Linked DNA regions of Homo sapiens: region 1 is linked to region 2. Evidence: fine-mapped expression QTL. A gene starts in region 2. The other region holds a variant in brackets. All regions are shown on one strand. Distances are from middle to middle.

Region 1 (12,118 bases), 63 kb after region 2:
ATAAAAGTTAAATTTGGCTGTTTGAAATGGCTCAAGCCTATAATCCTAGCACTGTGAGGCTGAGGGAGGAGACCTGCTTGAGGCTAAAAGTTAAAGAGCAGCCTGGGACCACAGTTAGATCACATCTCCACAGAAAATTTTTAAAATCTGGCAGGACATGGTGGCTCACGCCTGTAATCCCAGTAATTTGGGAGGCCGAGGTGGATGGATCACTTGAAGCTAGGAGTTTGAGACCATCCTGGCCAACATGGTGAAACCTCATCTCTACTAAAAATACAAAAATGAGCCAGGCATGGTGGCGTGGCAGCTTCCTGTAATCCCAGCTACTTGGGAGGCTGAGGCAGGAGAATCGCTTGAATCCAGAAGGTGGAGGTTGCAGTGAGCAGAGACTGTGCCAGTGTAGACTCCATCTTAAAAAAAAAAACAAAACAGTTACCTGGGCATGGTGGTGTATGCTTGTAGTCCCACATATGTTGGAGGCTGAGGCGAGAGAATCACTTGAGCCCAAGAGTTAAGGATGCAGTGAGCTATGATCCCACCATTATACCCTAGCCTGAACAACCACCGTGTCTGGCCCAAATTTAGTAAATGTTTCTGAATAAAACATTGTGATACTGCAAACAAACTGGATGATAGGCTGGGCACGATGGCTCATGCCTGTAATCCCAGCACTTTGGGAGGCTGAAGTGGGCGGATTACTTGAGGTTGGGAATTTGAGACCAGCCTGACCAACATGGTGAAACCTCATCTCTACTAAAAATACAAAATTAGCCAGGTGTGGTGGTACAGACATGTTATCCCAGCTACTCAGGAGGCTGATGCAAGAGAATCGCTTGAACGTGGGAGGTGGAGGTTGTGGTGAGCCAACATCGTGGCATTGCACTCCAGCCTGGGCAACAAAAGCGAAACTCCATCTCAAAAAAACAAAACAAAACAAAAACTGGATGATGAAATGTTGGGTCAGGTGTGAATTATAAGTTTTTTTGAGGAAAATTTAAAGTTCACTTATCTTAAAAAGGATTTTTCCTGTTTTGTTATTTGACCTTCCTTCATGAAAAAATACAAAAATAAAATATGCATATTTAAAATATGCATATTTTTTGGCCAGGCGTGGTGGCTCACGCCTGTAATCCCACCACTTCGGGAGGCTGAGGTGAGTGGATTACCTGAGGTCAGGAGTCTAAGACCAGCCTGACCAACATAGTGAAACCCTGTCTTTACTAAAAATATAAAAGTTAGCTGGGTGTAGTGGCGAGTGCCTGTAATCCCAGCTGCTCAGTAGTTCAAAAAAAAAAAAAAAAAAGATAAGGCAAAAATGGGTCTAGAAGTCCAGGAGCTACCTCCTCTCACCACAAGGCCAAGTCTTTTCTTTGTTTGCTTTTTGAGACGGTGTTTTGCTCTTGTTACCCAGTCTGGAGTGCAATGGCGTGACCTCAGTTCACTGCAACCTCCACCTCTTGGGTTCAAGTGATTCTTCTGCCTCAGCCTCCCAAGTAGCTGGGATTACAGGCATGTGCCACTATACCCGACTAATTTTTGCGTTTTCAGTAGAGACGGGGTTTTTCCATGTTGGTCAGACTGGTCTCGAACTCCCAACCTCAGGTGATCCACCCGCCTCAGCCTTCCAAAGTGCTGGGATTATAGGCATGAGCCACCACGCCCGGCCACAAGGCCAAGTCTTATGCCATTGGAAAGACACATGTCATACACCTGCAATGTGAGACAATGCTCTTCAGTGACCATGACGGATCAAGACAAAACAAGGACACTCTGTAACCATGTCTCAAAATAGTATAGAAGAAAACATATTTCAAATTATCAAACTGAGCAAATTTTTTTCAGTAATGTGACTCATTTGTAATTCTCATATATCTCACTGTCATTTATGGCTTTTGATCATATTTATTACTATATTACACCCTCTTTGACAACAAGTATGGTACTGGTGGTCTTTGGCAAGACGTCACTGAGAACATTGAGTTAACTTTTGGTACAATGAATGAATGAAAAGTTAGGACTAAGAGGCTGGGCGTGGTGGCTTACCCATGTAATCCCAGCACTTTGGGAGGCTAAGGCAGGTGGGTCACAAGGTCAAGAATTCTAAACCAGCCTGACCAACATGGTGAAACCCCATCTCTACTAAAAATACAAAAATTAGCCGGGTGTGGTGACCGGCGCCTGTCACCCCAGCTACTTGGGAGGCTGAGGCAGGAGAATCGCTTGAACCCAGGAGGCAGAGGTTGCAGTGAGTGGAGATCGCACCACTGCACTCAAGCCTGCGCGACAGAGCGAGACTGCGTCTCAAAAAAAAAAAAAAAGAAAAAGAAAAAGAAAAAAAGAAAAGTTAGGACTAAGATAAAAAATTTAAGGATAGCCAGGCGCGGTAGCTCACGCCTGTAATCCCAGCACTTTGGGAGGGCGAGGTGGGTGGATCACAAGGTCAGGAGATTGAGACCTTCCTGGCTAACACGGTGAAACCCTGTCTCTACTAAAAAAAATATACAAAAAAATTAGCCGGGCGTGGTGGCAGGCAACTGTAGTCCCAGCTACTTGGGAGGCTGAGGCAGGAGAATGGCGTGAACCCGGGAGGCAGAGCTTGCAGTGAGCCGAGATCATGCCACTGCACTCCAGCCTGGGCGACAGAGTGAGACTCCGTCTCAAAAAAAACAAACAAACAAACAACAAAAAAATTTAAGGATATAAGTGAGTATAAAAAGTAAAATTTTTTTACATGAGAAAAAGCATGCCTGGCATTCTATTCACATGGTAATATTGACTCACAATGTCCAACCAATAACTTGGCAACATTATGAACTTGATCTAATACATATTTTAATATAGCTACTGAATTAATTAAGAAAGAATAATGTTTGTCAGTATACAGTTGTGGAAAAGTTCAACTATTTCTATGACACATGTACAGAAATCTTGGTTGCCAAAAAAATTATTGTTTTTAATCAAATATAATCAAACATAATTGAAAATAAATGGAGACATTACATTCAGAAATGAAACACAGGAAACTCAAAACTTCCTGGGAGGAGGAAGGTGCTTATTCTCACCTTCCTGAAAGCCCTGGGTGAGACCAGTCACTGCAGCAGAGGAAGAAGCTCCTATCTAGTTGGACTGGACAAAAGCATAGTAGCTGTGAGGCTACAAGATAAGGGTCAGTAACAGCAGGAACAAAGGTGCTTGCCAAACAAATCGCATCTCATACTGACTCAATATACAAAGTAGGGGAATTGAACATCAGAGAACAATCTCACCCATGACAGTCTGCATTAGCTCTCTGGTAAAGACATTATACCTAAAGAAACACCAGGCCAGGCACAGTGGATCACGCCTATAATCCCAGCATTTTGAAAGGCCAAGACAGACGGATCACTTGAGGTCAGGAGTTTAAGACCAGCTTGCTCAACATGGTGAAACCCCATCTCTACTAAAAATACAAAAATTTAGCCATGCGTGGTGGTGTGCACCTGTAATCCTGACTACTCAGGTGGCTGAGACACCAGAATCACTTGAAACCAGGAGGCCCAGATTGCAATGAGCCAGGATAATGCCACTCTACTCCAGCCTGGGTGACAGAGAGAGACCTTGTCTCAAAAAAAAAGAAAAAGAAAAACTGTATTACAGATGGGGCTTTTTCATTGTTCTATTCTTTCAGTCTTTTAAAAAAATATCTTAGTCTTTATTTCTCTTCAATTTGCCCTTAACCACTGATGGATCTTTAATGTGGAGCTTCTGAAGACACCTTTACCCAAAGGCCCACACCTCTGAGCAAATTTTGAGGACATTCTTGATTGGCAAGCCAAAGATTCAGGAAAAAATGGGCTGGGAGCAGGGAGTCAGCCTGTATGGATGTGGCACCTGTTTGGTGCCTCTAAAATGTGACTGATGACTTCCTCTTGTCTGCCTTTGAAATTGCATGTAAGATAGGACACTGGTGAATTGTATTATGACATCCTCCAACTCCATTTCTAAATTTTATTGTCCTGTCAGACTTCTCTTTTTTTTTTTTTTTTTTTTGAGACGGAGTCTTGCTCTGTCGCCGCTGGAGTGCAGTGGCGCGATCTCGGTTCACTGCAAGCTCTGCCTCCTGGATTCACGCCATTCTCCTGCTTCAGCCTCCCGAGTAGCTGGGACTACAGGCGCCCACCACCACGCCCAGCTAGTTTTTTTGTATTTTTTAGTAGAGACGGGGTTTCACCGTGTCAGCCAGGATGGTCTTGATCTCCTGACCTCGTGATCCGCCCACCTCAGCCTCCCAAAGTGCTGGGATTACAGGCGTGAGCCACTGTGTCCGGCCAGGCCTCTCTTCTTAATTCAACAGTCAGTTATCTCAGAGGGTTTCTCTCTAGTGTCTCTTCCTGTTTGAAAGGAAGTGGGACAACTGAATGCTTCCTCAATTTTTTTTTTTTTTTTTTTTGAGATGGAGTTTCACTCTTGTTGCCCAGGCTGAAGTGCAATGCTGTGATCTTGGCTCACTGCAACCTCCGCCTCCCAGGTTCAAGCAATTCTCCTGCCTCAGTCTCCCATGTAGCTGGGATTACAGGCATGTGCCACCATGCCCATCTAATTTTTTGTATTTTTAGTAGCGATGGGGTTTTGCCATGTTAGCCAGGCTGGTCTCGAACTCCTGACCTCAGGTGATCTGCCTGCCTTGGTCTCCCAAAGTGCTGGGATTACAGGCGTGAACCACCGTGCCGGCCCCTTGCTTTTTTTTTCAGATGGAGTCTCACTCTGCTGGGGTACAGTGGCGTAATCTCGGGTCACTGCAACATCCAGCTCCTGGGTTCAAGTGATTCTCCTGCCTCAGCCTCCTGAGTAGCTGGGACTACAGGCACGCGCCACCATGCCTGGCTAATTTTTGTATTTTTGGTAGAGACAGGGTTTCACTATGTTGCCCAGGCTGGTATTGAACTCCTGACCTCAAGTGATCCACCTGCCTTAGCCTCTGGAAGTGCTGGAATTACAGGTAAGCTACCGTGCACAGCAATCAATTTCTTATAATAGGATTTCTCTCATATATTAATAGTATGAATTGCTTCATTTCAGGAATGAAGGCTTTTCACATTCCCTTCATTTACAGGGTTTCTCTTCAGCGAGTTCTTTCATGGCTACAAAAGGATCTGATACAATGGAATGCTTTTCCATATTGCTTGCATTCAGAGGGTCTCTCTTTATTGTGCATCCTTTTATGTCTTTGAAAATGAATGGGGAGAAGGCCGGGTGCAGTGGCTCATGCCTGTATGCACAGCACTTTGGGAGGCTGAGGCAGGTGGATCACCTGAGGTCAGGAGTTCGAGACGAACCTGGCCAACATAGTGAAGCCCCGTCTCTACTAAAAATACAAAAATTAGCTGGGCGTGGTGGCGGTCACCTGTAATCCCAGCTACTTGGGAGGCTGGGGCAGGAGAATCACTTGAACCCAGGAGGTGGAGGTGGCAGTGAACAGAGATGGAACCACTGTTCTCAGCCTCAGCGACAGAGCAAGACTCCGTCTCAAAAAAAAAGAAATGAACGGGGAGAGAGGCCTATCTGTCATGTGCAATACCATGTGGGTTTCAATGCCACTCAGATCAGAAAATGCTTTCCCACGCAGCTTACATTCATAGGGTTTTCCTCTAGTGTAAGTCCTTTTGTGAATTATACCCTCTTTGAAGACAGGTATGCCACTGTGGGATATGGCACAAAGTCACTCTGAAGAACATGAGATAACTTTTGGTATTATGAATGAACAAAAAATTAGGACCAAGATAAATGTTCTAAGTATATAAGCATGAAAATTAAAATTTACATGAGGAAAAA[G/A]ATGCCTGGGATTTTGTCCACTTGGTAATATTGACTCACAATGTCCAAAAAATAATGTGGTAACATAAACTTGATCTAATGCATGATGGCACTGAGATATTTTATTATGGCTTCTCAATTAATTAAATAGAGAATAACAGCTGGGTGCAGTGGCTCATGCCTGTCATCCCAGCACTTTGGGAGGCTAAGGCAGGTGGATCACTTCAGGTCAGGAGTTCAAGACCAGTGTGGCCAATAGGGTGAGACCTCATCTCTACTAAAAATATAAAAATTAGCCAAGTGTGGTGGTGCACACCTGTAATCCTAGGAATCTTTTTCCTCAGGAGCCTGAGGCAGGAGAATTGCTTGAACCCGGAGGCGAGATCATGCCACTGCACTCCAGCCTGGGCAACAGAACAAGACTCATCTCAAACAACAACAAAAAATAGAGAATAACGGCCGGGCACGGTGGCTCATACCTGTAATCCCAGCACTTTGGGAGACTGAGGCGGGCAGATCACGAGGTCAGGAGATTGAGACCATCCTGGCTAACACGATGAAACTCCGTCTCTACTAAAAAATACAAAAAATCAGCCGGGTGTGGTGGCAGGCACCTGTAGTCCCAGCTACTCAGGAGACTGAGGCAGGAGAATGGCGTGAACCCAGGAGGTGGAGCTTGCAGTGAGCTGAGATCACGCCACTGCACTCCAGCCTGGGTGACAGAGCGAGACTCTGTCTCAAAAAGAAAAAAAAAATACAGAATAACATGTTAGTATGCAGCTGCTATAAACATTTAATTGTTTACATTCATTGTCTGTATTTGAAGGTTCTTAGCAAATCTGAAGGCTTTCCCATATTGCTTATATTCATAGGGTTGCTCTACAGTGTGAGTCCTTTCATGCACCAGAAGTTGTGAGACAGATCTGTAGGCTTTCCCACATTGCTTACATTCATAGGGTTTCTCGCCAGTGTGAATCTTTCTATGCATCTGAAGTTGAGTGGCAGATCTGAAGGCTTTACCACACTGCTTACATTCATAGGGTTTCTCTCCAGTGTGAGTCCTTTCATGATATCGAAGGCTACCGGAAGAAATGAAGGCTTTCCCACACTGCTTACATTCATAGTGTTTCTCTCTGGTGTGGGTCTTTTCATGATACTGAAATGCAGTAGAAGACATGAAGGCTTTACCACACTGCTTACACTCATACTGTTTCTCTCCAGTGTGAGTCCTTTCATGGTACTGAATGGAACTGAAAGAAATAAAGGCTTTTCCACATTGCTTACACTCATAGGGTTTCTCTCCAGTGTGAGTCCTTTCATGTCTACGAATGGCAGTGGAAGAAATGAAGGCTTTACCACACTGCTTACACTCATAGGGTTTCTCTCCAGTGTGAATCCTTTTATGACACTGAAAGGAACCAGAAGAAGTGAAGGCTTTGCCACATTCCTTGCATTCATACGGTTTCACTCCAGTGTGAGCCCTTTTATGTCTACGAAAGGAACCAGGCAAACTGAATGCTTTCCCACAATCCTTACATTAATATGGTTTCTCTCCAGTGTGCATCCTTTTGTGTATACGCAAAGAAGAAAAATAATTGAACGCTTTTCCGCATTCCTTACATTCATAGGGTTTCTCTCCAGGGTGTGTTCTTGCATGTACTCGAAGGATCTTGGCAGATATGAATGCTTTGTCACACTCTTTACATTCATAGGCATTCTGTCCTCTGTGCATTGTTGCATGTATTTGAAAGGAAGAGAAATTGTTGAATGCTTTTCCATATTCCTTATAGGGTTTCTCTCCAGGGTGTGTCTTTTCATGAATTTGAAGGTTTCTGACAGATCCAAAGGTTTTTTCACATTGTTTAGATTCATACAGTTGCTTTCCAGTGTGAGTCCTTTCATGCATTTGAAGGTGTGAGGCAGATGTGAAGGCTTTCCCACATTGCTTACACTCATAGGGTTTCTCTCCAGTGTGAGTCCTTTCATGATATCGAAAGGAAGTGGAAAAAATGAAGGCTTTACCACACTGCTTACATTCATAGGGTTTCTCTTGAGTGTGAGTCCTTCCATGCATTTGAAGGTGTGAGGCAGATCTGAAGGCTTTCCCACATTGCTTACACTCATACGGTTTCTCTCCAGTGTGAGTCCTTTCATGATATCGAAAGGAAGTGGAAGAAATGAAGGCTTTACTACACTGCTTACATTCATAGGGTTTCTCTCCAGTGTGAGTCCTTTCATGATAGTGAAAGGAACTGGAACGATTGAAGGCTTTACCACAGTGCTTGCATTCATAAGGTTTCTCTCCAGTGTGAGTTCTTTCATGTCTTCAAAACGAACTGGGAGAATCAAAGGCTTTTCCACAGTCTTACATTTATAAGGTCTCATTCTAGTGTGCATTTTCATGTGTCTTTGAAAGTTAAGATAAGATAATGCTTTCCCACATTGTTTACATTCACAGGGCTTTTTCCCAGAGTGGGTCACTTCATGTCTACAAAGATAACTGGGACACTTGAATGCTTTCCCACATTTGGTACATTCATAAGCCTTCTCCTCACTGTGAGTTCTTTCATGTATTTGAAAGGAATGGAACCATCTGAAGGCTTTTCCACATTGTTTGCATTCATATGGCTTCTCTCCAGTGTGAGTTCTTCTATGTTCATAAAGGGAATTGGGACTACCGAATGCTTTCCCACATTCCTTACATTCATAAGGCTTCTCTCCAGTGTGAGTTCTTTCATGTATTTGAAGGGAAGTTGAATAACTAAAGGCTTTACCACATTGTTTACATTTATATGGTTTCTCTCCAGTGTGAACTCGTTCATGTATAAGATATATGCTGAGACAAGGGCAGGCTTTCCCACAAAACTTACATTTATAAGTTCCATCTCCATTGTGCATTATCATGTGTCTTTGAATGCTTGAATGGGATATGAAGGTTTTTCCACATTCTTTACAATCATAGAGTTTTTCTCCAGTGTGAGCCTTTTCTTGCATTTGAAAGGAGGGGTGACATCTGAAGGCTTTCTTACGTTGTTGACACTTATATGGCTCCTGTCCATATTCCTGATACTCAGACGGCTTGTGTGCAGTGTCAGCTCTAATGTGCCTATTAAGGGAAGAATGACCCACGAAGACTTCTCCACACACACTGCTTTCACATGATTTTACTCCAGGAGAAGTTTTTTTGTTCAGTGTGTCATCTGGAATCTGGCTAGAAGTTTCTCCACAATGATTTTCTTCTGTATTTTCATCAACTCTCTCTCCCAGAAGACTTCTGTGAAAAATGAGAAACACATTATTGAAGGTTTGTTTATAAGTGATTTGATGTTTATTAACAAGGATTACACTTGCATTTTATTTTATTTTATTTTATTTTATTATTAATATACTTTAAGTTTTAGGGTACATGTGCACAACGTGCAGGTTTGTTACATATGTATACATGTCCCATTTGGTGTGCTGCACCCATTAACTCGTCATTTAGCATTAGGTATATCTCCTAATGCTATCCCTCCCCACTGAACTTGCACTTTCAACATTATCCAGGAAAGTGTAGGCTTTCTACCCTGTCTAAATTGTTGGAAGGTGACTGGACCATATGGCTATAAGATGGCCTATCTATACGTATTATTTTTAAAAATCATATGTTTAAAAAAGAAAAACACCATATGAGAATTCTTCATAATATTTCCATGTAGACTATTTTACAAATACTAAACTTCTATATCATTTTCTTGAGTCAGGGTCACCATATAGCCCAGGCTGGAGTGCAGTGGCATCATCATGGTTCACAGCACCCTTGAACTCCTGGACTCAAGTGATCTTCCTGCCTCAGCCTTCGATGTAGCTAGGACTACAGGTATATGCCACAATGTATAGCTAGTTCTTTGTTTGAGATGAAGTCTCGCCATTTTGCTCAGGCTCTTCTCAAACTCCAGGCCTCTAGCAATCCTCCCACCTCCAACTCCCAAACAGTTGAAATTACAGGTGTGAGCCACTGTGCCCAGCCTAGATCACATTTAAATGTAGGTTTTTAGAGTGAATATTTTAAGAGTAAATAAATTTAATGCTAGGCATATTTCCTTTATTTGCTTCTTCTTAACATATTCTCGCATTCTGAGATTTTCTAGAGAGACATTGCTTTGTCTCGTGAGTTTAAATCACCTTAGATTATTCCTGGGATTTTTGTACTGATCTTCAATGTTCTGGTCTTTCCATTTTTCTCCTAAAATACAGAATCAGAAAAAGAATCCTGAATTAAAATAAAATTATGAAAAAATGATTAGATTCTATGTTCACGGGACATTAGAGCCATACCTCATTTATTCATCAAAGTATTGCCTGTCCATATTCCAAATCAAGGAATAGCATTAATGAGCTAGAAACACTTGTCTCATTCACTGGGGGACGTAATACTGTCATTCTTACCTATGGAGGCCAGATTCCTCAAGGTTTCCTGCATCACTTCTCTGTAGAGATTCTTCTGGGAAGGATCCAGCAAAGACCACTCCTCCTGGGTGAAGTTCACAGCCACATCCTCGAAAGCCACCAAGTCCTGAAACATCCCACATGTATAGAGGAGGATGGGTGAGACTGACAGCACTGGGGGTCTATACCCTCTTCCTAAGAAGTTCCCATGATGCTGTGGACTCCAAACATTTATTCTATTTCTTGGTCATCTGACCCATTACTCTCTGTCTACACTTACTTTCTTCTCTAAAGCAATTCTGATGCTGGAACAGAACTAAGCAATAAACGAACAGCAGAATAGAAAAATGTGTCTTTTCATGGAATCCAGGGAGAAAGGTGCGCTGCCTGGGCTGCTCTTAATGTCTGTTTGTAGCATGGGTCTATAGCACCTGTCATAACACAGTCCTCTAAATTCACCTGCAGAAAATGTTAACATTAGCAGTCCTGAGGCTATATATCCTTGAAAATGCCTGTTCACAAAGTTTAACCATTGAAGATTACCTGGAAGGGGGATTTTATTCTGATTGAAGCAGCAGACAACAAAAGCAAAAAAAAAAAACTGGATTTTGCAAGGGGTTCAACCAACCCAACTGATAAGAGAGGCAGAACTATCTAAATAAAAAACTCATGAATAGAAATTTTGTGAAAAACAGTACTGTGGGCCGGGCGCGGTGGCTCACACCTGTAATCCCAGGACTTTGGAAGGCTGAGGCGTGCGGATCGCTTGAGATCAGGAGTTCGAGACCAGCCTCAACATGGAGAAACCCTGTCTCTACTAAAAATACAAAATTAGCTGGGCGTGGTGGTGTATGCCTGTAATCCCAGGTACTCGGGAGGCTGAGGCAGGAGAATTGCTTTAACCTGGCAGGCGGAGGTTGCGGTGAGCTGAGATCGCACCATTGCACTCCAGCCTGGGCAACAAAAGCGAAACTCTGTCTCAAAAAAAAAAAGCAGACTGTGGTAGGAAAACTTAAATTGTAATTGATGAAATGCTGAAGGCTGAATGGAGACAAAGTTCAGGGATAAAAACTCCAGTGCACCCACTCTTAACAAAAAGGCAAATATTTATCAAAATTTAAAAGTTCTGTCTATGAGGGGACACCATAAACAGATGGAAAAGGCACCCCATGATGCTGGAGCAAATATTGGAAAGTCATATATCTGGAAAAGTCTCAATATTCAGAAAATATAATGAATTCTTACATTCAACTAAAAAGAAAAGAAAAATCAAGGCCAGGCGCGGTGGCTCATGCCTGTAATCCCAGCACTTTGGGAGGCCGAGGTGGGTGGATCACCTGAGGTCAGGAGCTCAAGACCAGCCTGGTCAACATGGTGAAACCCTGTCTCTACTAAAAATACAAAAAATTAGCCAGGCATGGTGGTGGGTGCCTGTAATCCTAGCTACTCAGGAGGCTGGGGCCAGAGAATTGCTTGAAGCTGGGAGGCGGAGGTTGCAGTGAGCGTAGATCGCGCCATTGCACTTCAGCCTGGGCAACAACACTGAGACTTTATCTCAAAAAAAAAGAAAAAGAAAAAAGAAAAATCAAACCACCTCAAATATAAAGTTTGGAAAAAACGTTGAGAAATTGGAACCCATGTGCTCTGACCAAAGGATTGCAAAATGGCTCAATCTTTATGGAAAACAGTATGGTGGTGCCTGAAAAACTAGCAAAAAAAAAAAAAATTTTCTTCCAGCAACCCATTTCTGGGTCTATTTATATTCAATTCATATAAATTGAAAGTTGGATCTTTGAAGAAATATTTGAAAACCACTGTTCACAATAGCCAAGAGATGGATCAATCCAAATGTCCACTGATGGCTAAATGGATAAAGAAAACGTGGTATGCATGTACTTAC
Region 2 (12,118 bases):
CCAAGTTCCACTGTATTTATTCTTACAAAATTTTCTCTAGGGCCGGCTGTGGTGGCTCACGCCTGTAATCCCAGCACTTTGGGAGGCTGAGGCAGGCGGATCACGAGGTCAGGAGATCGAAACCATCCTGGCTAACATGGTGAAACCCTGTCTCTACTAAAAATCCAAAAAAATTAGCCGGGCGTGATGGCGGGCACCTGTAGTCCCAGCTACTTGGGAGGCTGAGGCAGGAGAATGGCATGAACCCGGGAGGCAGAGATTGCAGTGAGCCGAGATCATGCCACTGCACTCCATCCTGGGCGACTGAGCGAGACTCCGTCTCAAAAAAAAAAAAAATCTCTAAAAACATATATTTAAGTGTGACATAGGCTGAACATCCTGGCTTAAGCCTATAATCCAGCCCTTTGGGAGGTTCAGGTCAGAGATTGCTTGAGCTGAAGAGTTTGAGGCTACACTCGGCCATGATAGCACCATTACACTCTAGCCTGGGTTAAAGGGCAAGACCCTGACTCAGAAGCAATAAAATTGACAAAGACAGTTAGTACTTGTAAAATAGTTTACCTGAAAATAGTGTTGGCCGGGCGCCCAGGTGTATGCCTGTAATCCTAATGCTTTAAGAGGCTGAGGTGGGCAGATTGCTTGAGTCTAGGAGTTTGAGACCAGCCAGGGAAATGTGACAAAACCCCATCTCTAGCAAATATACAAAAATTAGCCAGGCACGATGGTATGCTTGTAGCCTCAGGTAATCAGGAGGCTGAAGTGGCAGGACGGCTTCAGATCGGGAGATGGAGGTTGCAGTGAGCTGAGATCTCACCACCGCACTCCAGCCTGGATGACAGAGTGAGACCCTATCTCAAAAAATGTTTAAAAAGTACTAAGAAGCCCTATATCAATATTATCTTTCTTGATAACAGGTATAGCTGGGCCATCTTGTAGAGCATGTGTGGTCTGTTCATGTTCAGACAGGGCAGAAAGCCTACACATTGCTGTACAGTGTTAGAAATACAAGTGCAATGACTTGTTAATGAATATCAAATCAGTGATAAAGGAACCCATTATGATATACTTCTCATTGTTCACAGAGGTCTTATGGGAGAGAGACTCTTAGAAAGTAAGAAAGATCATCAGCATGGAGAAATTTTGACCCAGGTTCCAGATGACATGCTGAAGAAGAAAACTCCCCGAGTAAAATCATGTGGAGAAGTCAGCGTGGGTCATGCATCCCTTAATAGGCACCACAGAGCTGACACTGGACACAAGCCATATGAGTATCAGGAATATGGACAGAAGCCATATAAATGTACATACTGTAAGAAAGCCTTCAGTGATCTCCCCTACTTTCGAACACATGAATGGGCTCACACTGGGGGGAAACCTTATGATTGTGAGGAATGTGGAAAAAGCTTTATTTCCCGTTCAAGCATTCGAAGACACAGGATAATGCACAGTGGAGATGGACCCTACAAATGTAACTTTTGTGGGAAAGCCTTGATGTGTCTCAGTTTGTATCTTATCCACAAACGAACTCACACTGGAGAGAAACCATATGAATGTAAACAGTGTGGTAAAGCCTTTAGTCATTCTGGTAGCCTTCGAATACATGAAAGAACTCACACTGGAGAGAAGCCTTATGAATGCAGTGAGTGTGGGAAAGCATTCCATAGTTCCACATGCCTCCATGCACATAAAATAACTCACACTGGGGAGAAGCCGTATGAATGTAAACAGTGTGGGAAAGCCTTTGTTTCTTTCAATTCCGTTCGATATCATGAAAGAACTCACACTGGAGAGAAGCCCTATGAATGTAAGCAATGTGGGAAAGCCTTCAGATCTGCCTCGCACCTTCGAACACATGGAAGGACTCACACTGGAGAGAAACCCTATGAATGTAAACAATGTGGTAAAGCCTTTGGATGTGCCTCGAGCGTTAAAATCCATGAAAGGACTCACACTGGAGAAAAACCCTGTAGCTCCAACACTTCGAAAGGCCAAGGCGAGAAGATTGCTTAATTCACATAAGATTCCTAGAAGCCACCGAATCCAATCATGGTAAAAATGTGTTTCCCTCAAATCATGGGAACCATCGCAAAATTATTCTGAAGCTTCTGCAGTCACTGTCATTTGACAGCATTCAGAAATAAATGCCAGTAGCCCAGGAGCAAAAATTTTTGGGAGTAGTTTAGCTGGGGCCTCACTCAGATACCTAGGACACAGAGTTGGAAATAACTCTTAAGAGAGACACACCTCCAGTAAGACCTTAAGACAGTTCTGTCATAAAAAAAATACGAGGTTTGGCCGGGTGCAGTGGCTCATGCCTATAATCCCAGCACTTTGGGAGGCCGAGGCAGGCGGACCACGAGGTCAGTAGTTCGAGACCAGCCTGGTCAATATGGTGAAACCCCATCTCTACTAAAAAATACAAAAATTAGCCAGGTGTGGTGGCGCCTGTAGTCCCAGCTACTCAGGAGGCTGAGGCAGGAGAATTGCTTGAATACAGGAGGTGGAGGTTGCAGTGAGCTAAGATTGCGCCACTGCACTCCAGCCTGGGTGACAGAGTGAGACTCCGTCTCAAAATAATAATAATAATAATAAGGTTAGCCCAGCAAAGTGGCAGGTATATATATACAGGAAGGTCAGAAAAATCTTTTCCCTCCTATTGAAAGCCCAATACCTAAGTGGCAAGCCCTCATTTTAAGAAACTCACTAAAGGGATAACGGAAGTGCCATTGTCAGACTCACTGCCTCAGAAAGCTTTATCAAAACAAAAGGCTAAAGTTCCTATTCAAAAATATCCTATAATAAATGGCTGGCTATCGGGTACACTACGTATTTTATGCCATTCGTTCTCACGAGTTTTCTTTTTTTTTTTTTTTGAGACAGAGTCGGGCTCTGTCTCCCAGGCTGGAGTGCAGTTGCACATTCTCAGCCCACTGCAACCTCTGCCTCCTGGGTTCAAGCGATTCTTCTGCCTCAGTCTCCCGAGTAGCTGGCTTTACAGGCATGAGCCACCATGCCCAGCCTCTAAACTCTTTTTTTTTTTTTTTTTTTTTTTTTTTTTTTTTTTTGAGACAGAGTCTCACTCTGTTGCCCAGGCTGGAGTGTGTTGGTGTGAGCTCGGCTCAGTGCAACTTCCACCTCCTGGCTTCCCGGGTAGCTGGGATTACGGGCACCCACCACCACGCTAGGCTAATTTTTTATATTTTTAGTAGAGACAGGATTTCACCATGTTGGTCAGACTGGTCTTAAACTCCTGACCTCAAGTGACCCACACCAGTGTCTCCCAAAGTGCTGGGATTACAGGTGTGAGCCACTGCACCCGGCCTTCTAATCTTTTTCCAGCCTTCAAATTTTTTTTTTTTTTTTTTTTGATACAGAGTCTTGCTCCAGGTTGGAGTGCAGTGGTGTGCTGTCGGCTCACTGCAGCCTCCAACTCCCAGGTTCAAGCGATTCTCCTTTCTCAGCCTCCTGAGTAGCTGGGACTATAGGCGTGTGCCCCCACACCCAGCTAATTTTTGTATTTTTAGTAGAGACAGGGTTTCACCATGTTGACCAGGCTGGTCTCGAACTTCTGACCTCAGGTGATCCACCTGCCTTGGCCTCCCAAAGTGCTGGGATTACAGGCGTTAGCCACTGCGCCCGGCCATTTTTGTATTTTTAGTAGAGACGGGTTTCTCCATGTTGGCCAAGCTGGTCTTGAACTCCTGACCTCAAGTGACCCACCTGCCTCAGCCTCCCAAAATGCTGGGCTTACAGGTGTGAGCTACTGCGCCAGGCCTAATATCTTTTTTTTTTTTTGAGACAGAGTCTTGTTCTGTGGCCAGGCTGGAGTGCAGTGGTGCAATCTTGGCTCACTGCAACCTCCGCCTCCCAGGTTCAAGAGATTCTCCTGCCTCAGCCTCCTGAGTAGCTGGGACTACAGGCATGCGCCACCACGCCCAGCTAATTTTTGTATTTTTAGTAGAGATGGGGTTTCACCATGTTGGCCAGGATGGTCTCAATCTCTTGACCTCATGATCTGCCACCTTGGGCTCCCAAAGTGCTGGGATTATAGGCACCACGCCTGGCCCTAATCTCTTCTCAAAGTACTTTTTTCTTTAATGAATGTCTTAAATAAAAACTTTTTTCTAACCACAAACTTTTTTTTAAATTATTTTATTATGTAATTTTTTTTTAGAGAGTTGGTCTTGCTGTTTGGACCCGGCTGGAGTGCAGTGATATTCACAAGTGTGATCTTAGTGCATGAGAGCTTCATATTCCTGGGCTCACAATCCTTCTACCTCAGCCTGCCAAGTAGCTGTCACTACAGGTACCAGCTGCTGTGCCTGGCTTCCACCTTTTTTTTTTTTTTTTCTTTAATCAGTTCCTTTTAAAGACCAAAGAAAACCTGTCCTCTTGTGTGGCCTGAGTTGATCTATGAACATTATTCACTATGACCCAGAAAATCCCACGAAGTCGTGCATGTTAGAAGGATGAAACCCTCATGTTCACTGTAAACTGTGAAGGTGCTCAGGCCATCACAGGTATGCCTATATGAAAAGCCACCAAGTATCTGAAATATTTTCTTTTACAGAAATTATGTGTACCATTTCAGTCTTAGAAAGTGGAGTTGGTCGCTGTACGCAAGACAGACATTGGGGCTGGACTCACCATCAGTGGCCCCGAAAAGGTACTGAAATTTGCTTACAAGTGCAGAGTTATGCTGAACTTAAGGGTATAGATGTAGATTCCCTGGTTATTGAGCACATCCAGGGAAAAGGCACCCATAATGTACCACCTGACTTACAGAACTCATGGGCAGATGAACCCATCCACAAACTCCCCTGCCACATCCAGATGATGCTTAGTGAAAAGAAACACCTTGTTCCAAAAGCAGAAAAGGAGGATGCACGGAAGAAAAAGATACCCCAGAAGAAACATAAACTTAAGAGACAAACAAATTCAGCCAAAAGAAAATGCAAATAAAAGTTCAAAACAAAACAAAACAAAAAAACCTCTAAAATTCATAAAACACAAAATGACAAACTCTATTAAATATGCCCCTATGATATCTCTTAGATAAAAGTTGGCCGTAATAGAGAAAATGAAGATAGGTGTTGGTGACTGGCAGATTCTGGGTCTACGATGAATCAGAGAAGGATGGTTTTCACTTTGTTTTACATTTTTTTAATGCTTGATGTTGACTTGGTAGAAAGATGATAATAAAGAGATTCTTCTGTCTATGTGTTTCTTTTAGATTACTCATGTGGACTGAAGAAAAAAAATTAAATTTGTTAAAGAAAGTGAGTTTGATTTAGGATTGTGACTGAGGACAATAGCCTGGAAGCAGTTCTGACAGATGGCTGCTATGTAATATTTTGGTTCACAGTTTATAAGAGACATGTGGGCCCTGTGCTCTATCTTGTTTTTTCTTCAAAGCATAATTCTGGAGAGCTGGAGAGTCCCAGAGTCAGGAATGTTATAAAGTCAGGCTGGAAACCAGAAATAAGTAACATGACTAAACATTTGTGTGTTTTTTTGTTTTGTTTTGAGACAGAGTCTCGCTCTATTGCCCAGGCTGTAGTGCAGTGGTGCAATCTCGGCTCTCTGCAACCTCAGCCTCTTTGATACAAACGATTCTTCTGCCTCAGTCTCCCGAGTAGCTGGGATTACAGGTGGGCTCTACCACACCCGGCTAATTTTTGTATTTTTAGTAGAGACGGGATTTCACCATGTTGGTCACGCTGGTCTCCAACTCCTGATCTCAGGTGATCCAGCCACCTCGCCCTCCCAAAGTGCTGGGATTACAGGCTTGAGCCACAGCGCCCAGCCACTACTGCCTCACTTTCATGCAGTTAAATAATCTTGGACACTTCCTCCTCGACTTTATACATACACACTGGAGGAGAGCTTTGCTCGTGTGTTATTCTCGCAGTGGGATTGAGGATGTTTGTCTCATGGAAACTGATGAATGATGTGAGAAGCAGGTGAATAACCTGCAGGGGGCAGCAGAGACCGACGCCAGGGACGGGACGCTGAGGCTAGTATGGATCCTGCCAAGGAGTGAAGTGGAGTTCTGGGTGCTTCCTGGGCAGCCGCCCTCCCCTGCAGGTGGCTTGCAGCTGCTCAGAGCAGATCCAGAAAGAGTGTGGGTTCTGACATGCTGCAGCGCCCTGGAAAGCAGGAGACCCACGTGCAGGTGCACTTCAGGAGTTCTGTCCTTTCTGCGGCTGTACATCTGGAATCTGGGGCGGTTTTCGGGAGCAGTGTTTTGGGTTTGACATGCATAGAGTCCCTGGGGTCAGACTGTAATTTGCATATCTGAAGAAAATCCGTAAAGATCAAGTTCAGGGAAATAACTGTTTGGGACCTCTCCTGGAGAAGGGGCTTATGCAGTTGACAGTTTATTTAGGTCAGAAGCTTAAAATCACCAAGTGAGAGTTTTCTGCCGATGAAGATGAAGGTCTGGAAGGAGGGAGAGTTTCCACACTGTGAGGTGGGGTGAGATGTGTGAAAGCCTTGGCCATGTCTCATCCCTAATTCCGGGCCCCTGAAGGACAACTGCCTCTCCTTCTTGGTGCAGTCGTGCCTGGCCTGATCTGGGCTCCCCTTCCTGCTCTGAGGTCAGCACATCGCTCCATTGGACACTCAGTCTGGAATTCCCTGCACACACTTACAACCCTGTGCAGGACGAAGAAGCACTGACAGCCCATTGAATGAGGAAGAAGATAGTGCCCTGTGTAAAAATCAGGAGCAAATTTGGCTGAAAAGAAAATATCCAATGACCAGGGCTCAGGGAAGGAGTTGTCCCTTAGAGAGAAGCTGTGGCTAGAACCGATCAGTCCGGCTTTGCAGGGCTCGTTACCCAGGGCTTCTGCCGTCACTCAGTTCTGAGGGGGCGGGGCCTTGTACCTTGTCCAATCAGAAGCGCCGGGGCGGAGCCCGGCCAACGGTCCGTCCGGAAGGAGGAGGCCCATTCCAGCTTCTACTTTTGTTGCTATGCAGGTTGTTGTCGGGATACCAGATTTCCTACTCCGAGAGGCCCCGGGTCCCTCTGCCACAACTTCTGTCGCTCTGCCGCCTGCACCGTGACCCGCACTATTCACGGGAGCCCTAGAGAGGACACCGGGACACCCAGAAGCCGGGAAATGGTGAGTGTATGGGGCCGGAGTCCCCAGACGGGGGAGGGGCTGGGTGGAACCGGCCGGAAGCGGCTGTGGTGGGATCTGGGCCTCCTCGCCGCGCCTCCTGGATCTGGGACCCGAATCCCTCTGTCTCAGCTCGTCCCTGCGTCCCCTCGGCCGCAGGGTGCGGCTGGGCCGGCAGCCGGGACCCCGGGCGTCCTCCTGTTCTGTTCCTGCGCGGGCGACTGTGGGCCCCGACCCTGGAGCCCTCTCTGGGCAGCTCCGCGCCTGCAGCCCCGCGTCTCTTCAGATTTTGCGGGGACCACGGGAGGGTCATGGGGGAATCCTGCGGATTTTTTTTTCTGTTAAAGAGTTTGGGCCGGGCGCGGTGGACCATGCTTGTAATCCCAGCACTTTGGGAGGCCGAGGCTTGCGGATCACGAAGTCAGGAGATCGAGACCATCCAGGCTAACACAGTGAAACCCCGTCTCTACTAAAAATACAAAAAATTAGCCGGGCATGGTGGCATGCGCCTGTAGTCCCCGCTACTCAGGAGGCTGAAGCAGGAGAATCGCATGACCCCAGGAGACGAAGGTTGCAGTGAGCCGAGATCACGCCACTGCACTCCAACCTAGGGGACAGAGCGAGATTCCATCTCAAAAAAAAAAAAAAATTTAAAGAGTTTGAGCAAACAGCGATTCATGAGTGAGAAACGCCCAGTCATGATTTGTGGTTTTGGTACCAGAAAGTTTTAAGAAGAATTGCATTTTGTTAACGGTGGAGGGGGTCCAGGTTCTTGGCGTCTTGAACAAAGAATTGGACAAAACGCACAAAGCAAGGAAGGAATGAAGGGATTTAACACTCCACAGTGTGCAAGCGGGGCTGAGCACAGGGGCTCAAAGGCCCCGTTACAGAATTTTTGGGAGTTTAAATACCCCCTGGAGGATTCCATTGGTTACTTGGGGTATACTCTATGTAAAAGGAGAGGATGAAGTAAGGTTATAAAATCATTTACTTGGCTTACGCCCTATGGAGTAGGTATTTCCTTTCATAGCTGAAGTTTGAATAGGCCTTATGTTCCCTGCGTCCAGACCCTATTTTCCTGCCTCAATTTGAGTTTGATTTTGGTGTCCTTAGGTAGTTTCTTATAGCACTAAACACACTTCAGTCTAATTGCTGCTGCTTTAAATTTTTTCACACTGTCTATAGGGACTGGCTTCCTCCTGCATTTTCCTAATGTATGGGTCTCAAATCCTCCACCCTGCTACCCCGCCCTAACTCTTCAGCAGTTTGCAGTAACATCTTAAATTTTCAATTACTTTTCCGCATCTCCAAACATTAACTCCCCTTCTCCAACTCACAGTATTATCAACTTTCTTTTTTTTTTGAGACGGAGTTTCGCTCTTGTTGCCCAGGCTGGAATGCAATGGCATGATCTTGGCTCATTGCAACCTCTGCCTCCCGGGTTCAAGTGATTCTCCTGCCTCAGCCTCCTGTATCAACTTTCTTTATTGTAGAGTATATTTCTTCATCCTTTCTTTCACATAGATGCAGTATTTTAGTGGTTTATCATCTTTTCACAAGGTCATGGATAACTTTTTTTAAAATATTTGTGTTCTGTTTCTGAACATTTCACATAGAATAGAGAATAACCACTTGATACTCCAGTGAAAAACCTCTGTTCCTCTCCTCTTATCTTCGTAAGGCACAGACACCATCTCAGAATGTCTTTGGGTTGTTTCCTTTTTTTTTTTTTTTTTTGAGAGAAAGTCTCTCTTTGTAACCCAGGCTGAATTGAAGTGGCGTGGTCTTGGCTCACTGCAACCTCCGCCTCCCAGGTTCAGGTGATTCTCCTGCCCTCAGTCTCCCGAGTAGCTGGGTTTACAGGTATGCGCCACCATACCCCATGTATTTTAAGTAGAGATGGGGTTTCACCATGTTGGTCAGGCTGGTCTCGAACTCCTGAGCTCAAATGATCTGCCTGCCTCAGCCTCCCAAAGTGCTGGAATTTTACAGGCGTGAGCCACCGTGCCTGGCCTGTTTCCTTTTTGAAAACTTTACAGGGTGATGTGTCTTCAGGAGTCCCAATCTATCTTTTCCTGGTCCTGGGTTTCAGAACCGCCTGGGGCTGAACCAAAATGCCCACAGCTCCCATCTCTCCTGGCCTACTGAATATCAGCCCCTGTGTCAGTCCTCCCAGAGGATAGCCTGAGGCAGGGTGTGGGATCTCCCAAAGGAGCAACTGAATTTCCCAAATGGGAGGAGACTCCTGGTACACTCTTCATCTAGATAGCCAACCCCTTGGGATGCTCAGTTTTTCTCCCCCAGTCCCAGCTTCCATTATTTGGAGACACATAGCTGGTCAGCCAGTTGGATGTTGCTATTAAGGGAAAGGTGTAGGTGAAGTGAGCCACAGCAGAGTCATCTCAACAAAGCCATAAAGCCATGACATAACAGTGCATTATCACATCCCAGACAGATGAGGGCAGCACACCTTGCAGGGCAACACAGAGTGGGGGGAACATCCAGGATGCACATTCAACCAGCAGGTGGGGAGAAAGACAGACAGGGACTTTTGGGCCAGAGTTTTTCTTGGGGTCCAGGGCAATGCCCAAGGAGGTTTCTCTTAGGGAGTTGTTTCTGATAGATTTGGAGCAAGCAGGTGCTAGTTCTGTGAAGTCAGGCTGTGATTAACAGGTGGTCTGTGCCATCCACGTGGGTATAAGGGTCAGTGGGGCAAGTCAAGTTGGTCTGTCTAGCTTTTCCACAGTGAGGTCGTCACCAGGAGGCAGCTGTGTAAGTCACATATGTGGGTTGAGCACATGCAGGAACTGGGAGGAGGTGGATAACTGGAAACTGTTGAGGTCAAGTGCAGCTTTCTTCTTCTTCTTTTTTTTTTTTTTTTCTGAGACAGTCTCTTTCTGTCGCCCAGGCTGGAGTGAAGTGGCGCTCTCTCAGCTCACTGCAACCGCCGCTTCCCGAGTTCAAGCGATTCTCCTGCCTCAGCCTCCCGAGTAGCTGGGATTACAGGCACGCACACACCCGGCTAATTTTTGTGTTTTTTAGTAGAGAGGGAGTTTCACCATGTTGGCCAGACTGGTCTTGAACTCCTCACCTGAAGTGATTGGCCTGCCTTGGCCTCCCAAAGTGCTGGGATTACAGGCATGAGCCACTACACACGGCTTGAGTACGGGTTTCTTCTGTTATAAGAAAGTGAAACCCATAATGAAAATGCATGGTAAGGTAACATAAGAAGTCACGGTAACAGGCAACTCTAGAATTAATTCATATGGAGATGATGGGCTTCAAAGATTGTTTGTTCTCCTGTAGGTAACCATCTGTCCCTGTTCCTTCTGGTAAGTGAGGACCACTTGCATAATTGGCTGGTGATACCTGCTTTGTCGTGGTTTCACTATTTTCAGAATCTGCTGTTTTCCATTAGTCTATCTTTCCATCTGTTAATACCATTTTCTCTTGATTAGTATAGATTTTATTTATTTTATTTTATTTTATTTTTTCGAGACGGAGTTTCACTCTTGTTGCCCAGGCTGGAGTGCAATGGTGCAATCTCAGCTCACCGCAATCTCTGCCTCCCGGGTTCAAGTGATTCTCCTGCCTCAGCCTCCCAAGTAGCTGGGATTACAGGCATGTGCCAACATGCCCAGCTAATTGTGTATTTTTTTTTTTAATAGAGACAGGGTTTCTCCATGTTGGTCAGGCTGGTTTCGAACTCCCGACCTCAGGTGATCCGCCCACCTTGGCCTCCCAAAGTGCTGGGATTATAGGCATGAGCCACTGCGCCTGGCCTATTTATTTTATTATTATTTTTTTGAGATGGAGTATTGCTTTGTCGCCCAGGCCGGAGTGCAGTGACGCGATCTCGGCCCACTGTAACCTCTACCTCCTGGGTTCAAGTAATTCTCCTACCTCAGCCTCCCGAGTAGCTGGGACTACAGGCACCCACCACCACGCCTGGCTGATTTTTATATTTTTAGTAGGGACGGGTTTCTCCATGTTGGCCAGGCTGGTCTCAAACTCCTGACCTCAAGTGATCTGCCTGCCTCAGCCTCCCAAAGTGCTGGGATTACAGGCGTGAGCCACCGCGACTGGCCAAAGACCCTCTCTCTTAACAAAAAAAGGGTTGGTTTGTGGGAGGACGTGAGTATAGACAGAAAGTAAGAGGTGTGATGACCAAGTCATGGGATAAATGTTTGGAGTCCACAGTATCATGAGAACTTCTTAGGAATAAAGTATAGGCCTCCAGGGCTGTTAGTCTTACCTGTCCTCTTTTATATATGTGAGATGTTTCAGGATTCAGTGGCCTTTGAGGATGTGGCTGTCAGCTTCACCCAGGAGGAGTGGGCTTTGCTGGATCCTTCCCAGAAGAATCTCTACAGGGATGTGATGCAGGAAACCTTCAAGAACCTGACCTCTGTAGGTAAGAATGACAATATTACTTCCCAGTGAATTAGAGAACAAATGCTTCTAGCTCATCAATGCTGTTCATTGATTTGGAACATGGACAAAAAATACTTTGATGAATAAATCAGGCATGGCTACCATGTACCATGAATACAGAATCTAATGATTTTTAAATAAATTCATACTAATTCTGGATCTGTGTTTTCTCCGGGTCTGTGTTTTAGGAAAAACATGGAAAGTTCAGAACATTGAAGATGAGTACAAAAATCCCAGGAGAAATCTAAGGTAATTTTCTCTCGCAAGACAAGGCAATGCCTCTAGAAAATCTTAAAATGTGAGAAAATAGGCCGGGTACAGTGGCTCACGCCTGTAATCCCAGCACTTTGGGAGGTCGAGGTGGGTGAATCCCAAGGTCAGGAGTTCGAGACCAGCCCGGCCAATATGGTGAAACCCTGTCTCTACTAAAAATACAAAAAAATTAGCTGGGCGTGGTGGCACATGCCTGTAGTCCCAGCTACTTGGGAGGCTGAGGCAGGAGAATTGCTTGAATCTGGGAGGCAGAGCTTGCAGTGAGCCGAGATCGCACCACTGCACTC

The links. PIP is the estimated chance that this variant, and not a neighbour inherited with it, causes the effect. A credible set is the group of variants that fine-mapping cannot tell apart.
Region 1: its variant is the best candidate, but not a certain one, in a credible set for the expression of ZNF20 in cerebellum (GTEx, PIP 0.51).

What each region holds. Positions count from the first base shown.
Region 1 is chr19:12,072,258-12,084,375 of GRCh38, reverse strand. It overlaps ZNF844 (zinc finger protein 844), which reads right to left. Exons shown (of 4, transcript NM_001136501.3): 2 at 10,219-10,345; 3 at 9,955-10,015; 4 at 2,811-9,064. The coding sequence ends at 7,255. Among named protein-coding and RNA genes, the nearest start is that of ZNF844, 14 kb to the right of the region's middle. The variant G/A (reference allele first, on the strand shown) is at 5,812.
Region 2 is chr19:12,135,189-12,147,306 of GRCh38, reverse strand. It overlaps ZNF20 (zinc finger protein 20), which reads left to right and starts at 6,957. Exons shown (of 4, transcript NM_021143.4): 1 at 6,957-7,127; 2 at 11,403-11,538; 3 at 11,747-11,807. The coding sequence starts at 7,125. ZNF625 (zinc finger protein 625) reads left to right here. Exons shown (of 4, transcript NM_145233.4): 4 at 1,083-2,417. The coding sequence ends at 2,010. ZNF625-ZNF20 (ZNF625-ZNF20 readthrough (NMD candidate)) reads left to right here. Exons shown (of 8, transcript NR_037802.1): 4 at 4,592-4,666; 5 at 6,982-7,127; 6 at 11,403-11,538; 7 at 11,747-11,807. It also overlaps the pseudogene RPL17P47. RefSeq lists silencers at 7,171-7,380, 9,086-9,188.